2 separate regions of the Homo sapiens genome follow, and region 2 is linked to region 1. Evidence: fine-mapped expression QTL. A gene starts in region 1. The other region holds a variant in brackets. All regions are shown on one strand. Distances are from middle to middle.

Region 1 (5,000 bases):
ATCGATGCTGTTACACAACCACATAAGCACTATTTTAGTCCGTTCACGCTGCTCTAACAAAATACCAGAAACTGGGTGTCTTCTAAACAACAGAAATGTATTTTCTGAGTTCTGAAGGCTGAGCAGTACAAGATCACGGTGCCAGCAGGTTTGGTGCCTGGTGAGGGCCCACTTCTGGTTCATAGAAGCCCATCTTTTTGCTATAACCTCCCACAGCAGAAGGGGTAAGGCGGCCCTGTGGAGTTGTTTTATGAGGGTGCTAATCTCATTCATGAAAGCTGAGCCTTCATGACCACATCACCTCCCAAAGACCCCACCTCCTAATATCATCACATTGGGGATTGCTTTGCAACATATGAATTTTGGGGGGACTCACATATTTGGACCATGGCAAGCCCCTTAAAAGCAGAGTTTTCTCCAGCTGGGAGCAGAAGGGGATGACAGAGAGGCTGGAAGGATAAGAAGGATCCGACATGCTCTTACTGGCTTTGAAGATGGAGAGGGCCACGTTTAAGGACCGGAGAGTGACCTGTAGGAGCTGAGAGTGACCTCTGGCCATCAAGCATGGAGGGTCCCCTTAACTTTCTGCTAGAGGTACACAGTGAATAAGCCTAGACACAATGACATGCAGTGGGTGCTTAATAAAGATCTCTTGGGAAATGAGCATTAAAGCAACATTTACTGGGCTCCTGCTGTATGCCAAGCCCATTTCAAGCTGAGGAAACAGATGACTAAACTGACTAAGTACCTGCCCCTAGGGCCTGTTTTCTCGCAGAGGCACTTATATAGTCCAGTGAAGAAAGAAATCTTCCAGAATGATTCCTAAAGGCATATTCAGAGCCTGGCAGGGCTGAGGAAACAGTGGTGAATCAGACCCACCTTGGCCTTGGGTGCCCACAGTGGGTAAAGCCAGACTCCAACTTACAGCCAAAGCCCCAGGCAGAGTGAAGCTTATACCCTTAGGAAAAAAGTAGGGGGAGGCTGGGTCACAGCACTCAGCATCAGCACCGAGGCCGCAGCTCTGTGTTCCAGGAGCATCTGCCCGAGGCAAGAGGGAGCGGAGGCCCTGGCTGGGGGCAAATCCCGACGCTGTGAGCACCTGGCTTCTCGGAGCCTGGAATATTCTAACGGGACCACTGAATTCGGTTGTTTATTATTTTTATTTATTTATTTTGAGACAGGGTCTCGCCCTGTCACTGGGCTGGGGTGCAGTGGCGCAATCAGGCGTTCAGAGCTCACCTCGGTCTCGACCTGCTGGGCTCAAGCAATCTTCCCGGCTCAGCCTCTCAAGTAGCTGGGACTATCGGCACGCGCCACCACGCCCAGCTAATTTCTTGTGTTTTTTTTGGTAGGGTTTTTTCCCTTGTTGCCCAGGCTGGTATGGAACTCCTGAGCTCAAGCGATCCTCTCACCTCAGCCTCCCAAAGTGCTGGGATTATAGGCGTGAGCCACACGCCCGGCCTGGGTGTTTATGATTTAGAATGTTGGTGAGAGGTGACAGTGTGCTGGCAGTCCTCACAGCCCTCGCTCACTCTCGGTGCCTCCTCTGCCTGGGCTCCCACTTTGGCAGCACTTGAGGAGCCCTTCAGCCCACTGCTGCACTGTGGAGGCCCCTTTCTGGGCTGGCCAAGGCCAGAGCCGGCTCTCTCAGCTTGCAGGGAGGTGTGGAGGGAGAGGCGCGAGCGGGCACCGGGGCTGCACACGGCGCTTGCGGGCCAGCTGGAGTTCAGGGTGGGCGTGGGCTTGGTGGGCCCCGCACTCGGAGCAGCCGGCTGGCCCTGCCAGCCCCCGGCAATGAGGGGCTTAGCACCCGGGCCAGCGGCTGCGGAGGGTGTACTGGGTCCCTCAGCAGTGCCAGCCCACCGGCGCTGTGCTCGATTTCTCACCGGGCCTTAGCTGCCTTTCCGAGGGGCAGGGCTCGGGACCTGCAGCCCGCCATGCCTGAGCCTCCCACCCCCTCCATGGGCTCCTGTGCTGCCCGAGCCTCCTCGACGAGCACCACCCCCTGCTCCACGGCGCCCAGTCCCATCACCACCCAAGGGCTGAGGAGTGTGGGCGCACGGTGCCGTTCTCGCAGGCAGCTCCACCTGCAGCCCTGGTGTGGGATCCACTTGGTGAAGCCAGCTGGGCTCCTGAGTCTGGTGGGGATGTGGAGAACCTTTATGTCTAGCTCAGGGATTGTAAATACACCAATCAGCACCGTGTGTCTAGCTCAGGGTTTGTGAATATACCAATCGACTCTGCTGGGGCCTTGGAGAACCTTTGTGTCTAGCTCAGGGATTGTAAACGCACCAATCAGCACCCTGTCAAAACAGACCACTCGGCTCTACCAATCAGCAGGATGTGGGTGGGGCCAGATAAGACAATAAAAGCAGGCTGCCGGAGCCAGCAGTGGCAACCGGCTCAGGTCCCCTTCTATTGTGGAAGCTTTGTTCTTTCTCTCTTTGCAATAAATCCTGCTGCTGCTCACTCTTTGGGTCCACACTGCCTTTATGAGCCGTAACAGGTCTGCAGTTTCACTCCTGAGCCGGCGAGACCACGAACCCACCAGAAGGAAAAAACTCCGAACACATCCGAACATCAGAAGGAACAAACTCCAGACGCGCCACTTTAAGAGCTGTAACACTCACCGCGAGGGTCCGTGGCTTCATTCTTGAAGTCAGTGAGACCAAGAACCCACCAATTCCGGACACATTGGGAACTTAGAGCAGTGCTTGGGACATGGTTATCAGCGTCAGATATTTCCTTAAACTAGCGTGAAGTCGACTTTAACCTTCCAGCAGTGTGAGTGAGGGCCCTGACCCTAGAATCAACGCCCAAAGAGCTGTGGCGCTACAGCGGGCGGGGACATGGGGTGCGCATGCGTGCGGGGGGGTACGCGTGCGTGCAAGTGCGCGTGCGCGCGCAGGACCGCTGAGGCGGGAGCCCCGAATGCGGTTCTCGCTTGCTGCGTGGCGGTAAAGGACCGCAGGTGTCGTAAAAGGGCCGCAGTGGCAGCGTCCTGGCCGACGGCTAGTAGCCCATTTTGGATACCGTCCTCGCTGCGGAAAGTTGGGGCAACCTGTTGCTAGTCTGGTCGTTGGTGACAGCGAGGCTTCCGCGCTCGCTGCTGGTGAGCAGCCCCGGCGTGCCCCGCGGGCTGGAAGAGGCGGCGGCGTGATGCGGCCCGTGGACGCGGACGAGGCGCGGGAGCCCCGCGAGGAGCCGGGCAGCCCGCTGAGCCCCGCGCCCCGCGCCGGCCGCGAGAACCTGGCCTCCCTGGAGCGCGAGCGCGCCCGGGCGCACTGGCGGGCCCGCAGGAAGCTGCTGGAGATCCAGAGCCTGCTCGACGCCATCAAGAGTGAGGTGGAGGCAGAGGAGCGGGGCGCCCGGGCCCCAGCACCCCGCCCGCGTGCGGAGGCTGAGGAGCGGGTGGCTCGGCTGTGCGCCGAAGCAGAGAGGAAGGCTGCGGAGGCGGCGCGGATGGGCAGGCGGATCGTGGAGCTGCACCAGCGGATCGCCGGCTGCGAGTGCTGCTGAGCCGGCGAGGCCGCGCGGGTCTGGAGCGGAGCGCGGCGGGGAGTGTCCCGCGTGGAAGGCGCTGGGTAGGCAGGGAGGGGAGCGCAGAGCCGTGCCACGCTCTCCGCGGAGTTGGTTTCATTCTTTTTTCATAGGTAATTAGAGAAAATAATTTGATATGTTGTTGTAAAGAGTCATGACCACTGGAAGTATTTTCAGGACGTAGACCTGGTGGGTCACTACGTGGGGGGAGAGAGGTGTGAAGCGGAGGTACATGCTGGAAACGTGTGAATGTTGTTACGAGATTGGAGCGTTTGCGATGACCTTCCTGCAGGTGGAAGCATTGTGCACAGGTGGTTGGGTTTGTTTGACTCCCGGATATGAGAATATCAAGCTCAAAATTTATGTTGTGATGATGAATTTCTCCCACTTGTACTTTAGGTGGCCAACTGACGAACTGTGTTCACCTGATAAGGAGTCGTGGCTGCTTGGACAGGCTCAAACCAAGAGAGCCTTTCGTTTTGTCTCCCCTGTTTTTCTGCCTGCGTTTTCTCCACATTAGCCACTCAATTTCCAGTACCATCCTGGCGGATGACTTCAGCATTAGATGGTCAGGTGTATTTTTTTATTAATAGGCGCATTCAGTTTGGAAAAGACAGCTTTTCATTAATGTCCCACGTAAAGGAATATGGCCTATACAGTACGTACGCTGCTGCGTGGTCATATTTGTTCCTGTGATCTTATTGTATTTTCAAAGTTTGGAAGTATACTCGTGTGCTTTGCTGTTTTTTTATGCTTCCTGGAATTTGGGGACTCATGAGAGACTTGAGGTTAGAGTTCTGCAAGTGAGAAGACACTACATGGTTGCAGCTGCCACATGAAGAACCCAAGCTCCTGTCAAAGTTGTGAATGCGACTTTGGATGAGATTAAGAAGGCCCAGTGGACGGTTGGTCTTGAAGAGTGGCAGTGTGTGGATTTGAGGACCTCTGCAGACCATCAGATCAAAGGAGGGAGAGCTGTTTTGGGTGTTTTGTTTTTTTTGTTTTTATAGCATTTTGCTTTTTCTTGGAATGTAATTTTCCTATGGCATGTTAACTGGTGCACATCGTGTAACCTGTCTGGTGAGCAACCTACAATTGGGATGAGTTCTAGGTACATGTGTTTGCTGACTTTGGGGTAAACAACTTTGTTATAATACAGTCTCTGCCACAGATGCATGTGACCTCTTCAGGGGCCCAGAGTGGCTGAGGAAGGAAAGCTTCAAGCTGGCCATGGGGGTCCCAAACAGTCATTCCAGGCTTAGATGATGACTAGCCTAGGTCATCAGAGCCCAGACTCCACAGAGACTAAAATCAGAGCTCTGTCTTGTTATGATAAATTTCATTTGCTTGGAAAAAGAAATGCTGAAAGCCAGTGTTTAGAATCTTTGTGCAGATGACCAAAGCAATTGACTTGGCCAAGAAAAGGTAAGGTAAATAAACATTTTTCAAAATGAGTTTCT
Region 2 (5,516 bases), 22 kb after region 1:
AGTCCTGCCCCACACCTAGAAGGAAGGAGAGCTGCTCAGAGAGGCCCCAGGGAATCTGACTCAACAGGCCCTACCAGGCTCTCCTCTTGGTCTGTGAGCATCCAGCCTTACTTTTGTATCCAATCATATTTCCATACTTCGCTGAACTGTGTTTATGGATAGTTTCCACCAGATCTTTGGATCTTCATCTTGAAGGCTGCCGTGCCACATAAGCTATGATCAAATACATCTGTTATGCTCTTCTCCTATTCATCTGCCTTCTGCCCGTTGATTTTCAGCAAACTCCCAGAGGATGAAGGGGAGTTTTCTGTTTGGCCCCACAGGGGAGGAGCGAGCGAGATTGACGTGGAAGCTGGGCCTCTGAAGGACACAGAGTGCTCTAAGAAAGGGACGATGGGGCAGATCCATGTTCACAAACACGCCCATGTGAATTCACTCTCAGATGTCTCCTCGTGTCAGCACGCTGGGTGCCAGCACGCTCTGATATTGACACAAAGGGCCACGGAGTCACCACTCACTCCACACACACTCACCCCGTGCCCACTTACCCAGGGAGGGCCAGGAATGAGGATGCCACTGTGGCTCAGTGATGGCGCCGAGACACAGGTGAACACTGTAAAATGTGGATGCCTGGAGGCAGCCCACACCCTGGGCCTTGGCTGGGGGAAAGGTTCCAGAAACGTCATCACAACGATGCATTTCATCAGAACTGAGCACATGAATGGGGAGGGGCAGGACTTCCTGAATGTCCCAACCCCACTGTCCCACCCTCTGTGTCAATATGAGGCTGCCTTATAAAGCACCAAGAGGCTGCCAGTGGGACATTTTCTCGGCCCTGCCAGCCCCCAGGAGGAAGGTGGGTCTGAATCTAGCACCATGACGGAACTAGAGACAGCCATGGGCATGATCATAGACGTCTTTTCCCGATATTCGGGCAGCGAGGGCAGCACGCAGACCCTGACCAAGGGGGAGCTCAAGGTGCTGATGGAGAAGGAGCTACCAGGCTTCCTGCAGGTGAGCCAGGCCGGCAGTGCTGGACTCAGCGGGGGCTGGGGAAGAAGGGGAAGGCGTGGCAGGCAGAGGGCTGAGAGCTGCGGTGGGGTCGGCGGTCAAGGGGCTCAGAGGCAAGAGGGACAGATCCTGAAATGCCCTGGAAGCCCAGCCAAGGAACGGACCCACCCTGGCATAAAGGCAGGGGAGGCGGGAGCATCTGAGCAGGGAGAGGGTGTGGTCAGCTTGATCCTTGAAACATGGGGTTGACCCCAGTGTATTTGTGACAGGCCTGGTGGGAGAGTGGGACTCAAACCTGTGCAGTGGGGGCAGGGGCGGAATGCAATCCAGGGCTGCCATTTGCAAGTTTGCCAAGCTTGCCAAGCCCTTGAGCCCTCGGGGCTGTCCTCCAAGGCTGCCGGCCATAAACGCCCCAGCTCTGCCTCCCACTTGCCCGCTTTCCCTGCTCCCATTCCCAGGCCCCTTGTTGCCTGGTATTAGTGGGTCTGGCAGGAAGGACGGGAGGAGGCTCCATCCTGGCACCTGTCTGCGCAGAGCTGTGGACCTCCCTTGGGCTCCCTGCCAGGGAGGAGCCACCGGCCTGAGCCTCACAGAAGGCCCCTCAGGGCGGCCAGGACCAGCTTCCTTCCGCCCGGGGCAGCCTCCGGCTGGGCTGAACAGAAGCCGTACCCTCTCCATTTCCCCTTCCCTTTGACCCCTGTCCTCTCCTTCTTTCTCACTCCCCCACTTTCTTCCTTCCTTCCCCTCCCCTTCGGGCCCCACCAGACTCTGCCTACCTGCTAAGGGGCTAACCCACATAGATGCTGATAATCAAAAATGAAAGCCTGAAATTTTCAGCCCTAGAATCACTTCAAAGACATGAAACACTTCAGAATATTGCTTCTATTTTCTTTTCTTTTCTTTTTTTTTTTTTTTGAGACAAGATGTCACTCTGTCACCCAGGCTGGAGTGCAGTGGCAGGATCACGGCTCACTGCAGCCTCGACCTCCCTGGGCTCAGGTGATCCTCCCACCTCAGCCTACCGAGTAGCTGGGACTACAGGTGCATGTCACCATACCCGGTTAATTTTTGTATTTTTTTTAGAGACAAGGTCTCACCATGTTGCCCAGGCTGGTCTCAAACTCCTGTGCTCAGGCAATGCGTCAGCCTCGACATCTCAAAGTGCTGTGATTACAGGCGTGAGCCCCGACACCTGGCCTAGTTCTATTTTCTAAATGTGAATTCTGTAAAGATATCTTTTAAAAATAAAGTTCTGTTTTTGGTAGAAAATGTAAAAATAGATAAATATGGAGGGAAGAAATCCCCCCTGGAATACAGACGCTTCCTCTCCCTTCCAGCCTTTTCCCCATATGAACATTGCTGTGAGTGAGATTTACATGCAATGTAATTTCTTTTTGAGCTTAACATTACAACATAAATTCTCAAACTCTGATGTTCATTAAACACCCCAGCCCCATCCTGGGAACTTGGGCTTGGGGCTCGGGGTGTTCTGATAATGATCAAAGTATGAGAATTGAACCCATGAGGACTTTGATCCAAGATACTGGGGTGTGGGGAGGGGCAGGCACAGGTGTCCTGGGAACACACTTTGAGAAGCAATGGCAAAGCTGGGGGTCCAGCTAATGTGTTACATTAGAATCACCTCGGGGAGGCCCTGGGTGCCCTTCTCAGCCCTCCCTCCGGAGGCTGCTGAAGCCCAGCAAAGCCGGAGTCAGAGAACAATGTCCGCCTGAGGGCAGGGCTGGGCTGGGCTGGCCTTCTGGCCCTATCTGCTCCGTGCCCAACCCAGCGCCCCGCACAGTCGGAGCTTTGTAAATACGAGGTGACTGTCTGCCTACAAACTTTGTAAACATCACTTGAAATGGCCGCAGGGTATTG[T/C]GACATGGCCATACCACTATTTGTTTGCTATTGAATTTGTACTTCCCTGCCTTACTTTTGCTATTGCAAACCATGCTGTCACTAAGGTCTTCATGCACACAGTTGTGTCTTGGTCAGATGATATGTTTCTACCAATTTTAATTGTGTTTCTTTCCACCTGGACACACAGCTCTCTGGCCCAGGGCTGGGTCATCAGCACACCCTGCTGCTGCTGTTCAGATCTGCATCCTGGTCCCGCTTGGTCCCACAGTGAGAACGCTTTGCTATCACATGGGCAGGCTCTGAGAGCCCTGCCGGCCTGGCCTTCTCAAAGAAGACCTGAGAGCTTGGGACCCAAGCAGAGAGGAAGAACAGGGCTCAGGGTGCTTGCTCCATGCTCGCTCCACACCTGGGGCTCAACCCTGGCTTTCCCCGGCTCCCTGTGTGACTTCAGGGCAGGTCCCTTGGGCCCTCTGGGCCTTATCATCTTCATCTGTAACAGGGCGATGCCTCTGCCGTGTCTGGTGGTGTTGAGGAGTTCCTGTTTGTGTAAGCAGCTAGTTCAGTGCCAGCACGAGATGGGAGGCCCATGAAGTTAGCAGTGCACAAAAAATAGAGCAAAGACTGGATGCATTTCCTGAGAACAACCATCACTGTAAAGCACTTTACAAATCCAAAGACAACCCCCGGCAAAAACTCAAAATGAAACTCCCTCTCGCAGAGCACAATTCCAATTCGCTCTAAAAACATTACAAGTTAGTTCATGTCATGCCAGATAGCTGAAGGCAGCTCACAAGTTCTTAAGGCCAGGAATGCCATGTGTCTGCTATGCACAGCTGGCCCTGGCCCTGACAGCAAAGGTGACGCAGATGTGGGTGCCCTGCTCCTGCCCAGCAGCAGTGCTTGGTGGAGGCTGAGGCCCTGCACAGGCACCCTCACTGCTGACCTTGAGCCTCTCTCTCCTCTAGAGTGGAAAAGACAAGGATGCCGTGGATAAATTGCTCAAGGACCTGGACGCCAATGGAGATGCCCAGGTGGACTTCAGTGAGTTCATAGTGTTCGTGGCTGCAATCACGTCTGCCTGTCACAAGTACTTTGAGAAGGCAGGACTCAAATGATGCCCTGGAGATGTCACAGATTCCTGGCAGAGCCATGGTCCCAGGCTTCCCAAAAGTGTTTGTTGGCAATTATTCCCCTAGGCTGAGCCTGCTCATGTACCTCTGATTAATAAATGCTTATGAAATGATCCTGGTCTCAGAGAAACTGGTTATTTCCTTAAAACCTCAGTGTCCTCTCCCCACAAAACAGAATTCACTAATTAAACTTGTCATTTCATTACTCATTGCCTGCCTGCAGTGGTGAGACAGATGAAGAAGACAAGGCAGTCGATAAAAATCCATTTGTTGGCCATCTTCTGAGTGCCCACTGAGACACAGTCCCACCTTTGGCCGTGTGAATGCCACCATGTCCTGGACCCAAGGGAGGCTCGGGTACACACATCCATGTATTTATTCATCTACTTCGTAATTCATTTAGTCGGTCACGTAGCCACTCATTGAACCTGGGCCCCTCCATCTCTCCAAACAGCATGTTTTCTTCAAGTAACATACTTCTAATATTTATTTATTTTTGAGACGGAGTCTCGCTCTTGTCACCCAGGCTGGAATGCAATGGCGCCATCTCAGCTCACTGCAACCTCCGCCTCTTGGGTTCAAGTGATTCTCCTGCCTCAGCCTCCCGAGTACCTGGGACTGCAGGCACCCGCAAAACCACACCTGGCTACTTTTTGTATTTTTAGTAGAGACGGGGTGTCACCATGTTGGCCAGGCTGGTCTCGAACTCCTGATTTCAGGTGATCTGCCCACCTCAACCTCCCAAAGTGCTGGGATTACAGGTGTGAGCCACTGCGCCTCGCAAAGTAACATATCTTTTTTTCTTTTTTTTTTTTTTTGAGACGGAGTCTCACTGTGTTGCCCAGGCTGGAGTGCAATGGTGCGATCTTGGCTCACTGCCAGCTCCGCCTCCCAGGTTCACGCCATTCTCCTGCCTCAACCTCCTGAGTAGCTGGGACTACAGGTGCCCACCACCACGCCCGGCTAATTTTTTGTATTTTTAGTAGAGACAGGGTTTCACCGTGTTAGCCAGGATGGTCTCGATCTCCTGAGCTCGTGATCCACCCACCTCGGCCTCCCAAAGTGCTGGGATTACAGGCTTCAGCCACCACGCCCAGACAGTAACATACTTTTAATGATGCAATGCTATTTTTGCCACAAAGACTATGAAACACCATAACAGAGAAACAATGAATTCCAAGAGAGCATTAGAATCATCAGTGAACAACTGCTCACATCACCTGTATTTAGTTTTACGACACTAATGTTGGGAGCACCCAAAAGGACTCAAGCGAGGTCTTGGATGATAGGTAGGTAACTGGATCTGGTTTTAGGACCCCTATCATTTTTTGGATACCCAGTATTTAAAGCCTCTTGCTATGTTTGAAGACATTTTCACTAGAGAAGATCTATCACCAAAAGATCCTGAACTTGGAGGTGGACACAACAATACGAGGCTTGGGTGGATCCCTCTTTGGGGAAGGGACTGCAGATTGCAAATATTTTTGCTAGAGAGAGAGTCGTGTTAGGTTAGAT

Evidence for each region. PIP is the estimated chance that this variant, and not a neighbour inherited with it, causes the effect.
Region 2: its variant is fine-mapped to the expression of MRFAP1L2 in spleen (GTEx, PIP 0.94).

Annotation. Positions count from the first base shown.
Region 1 is chr4:6,671,054-6,676,053 of GRCh38, forward strand. MRFAP1L2 (Morf4 family associated protein 1 like 2) reads left to right here and starts at 3,022. Exons shown (of 1, transcript NM_138699.3): 1 at 3,022-4,994. The coding sequence starts at 3,160. The coding sequence ends at 3,519. LINC02482 (long intergenic non-protein coding RNA 2482) reads right to left here and starts at 2,828. Exons shown (of 2, transcript NR_134665.1): 1 at 2,631-2,828. RefSeq lists an enhancer at 2,016-2,624 and a silencer at 3,097-3,326.
Region 2 is chr4:6,693,057-6,698,572 of GRCh38, forward strand. It overlaps S100P (S100 calcium binding protein P), which reads left to right and starts at 822. Exons shown (of 2, transcript NM_005980.3): 1 at 822-1,014; 2 at 3,837-4,114. The coding sequence starts at 877. The coding sequence ends at 3,986. RefSeq lists enhancers at 1-43, 353-1,089, 1,090-1,825, 3,028-3,790. The variant T/C (reference allele first, on the strand shown) is at 2,890.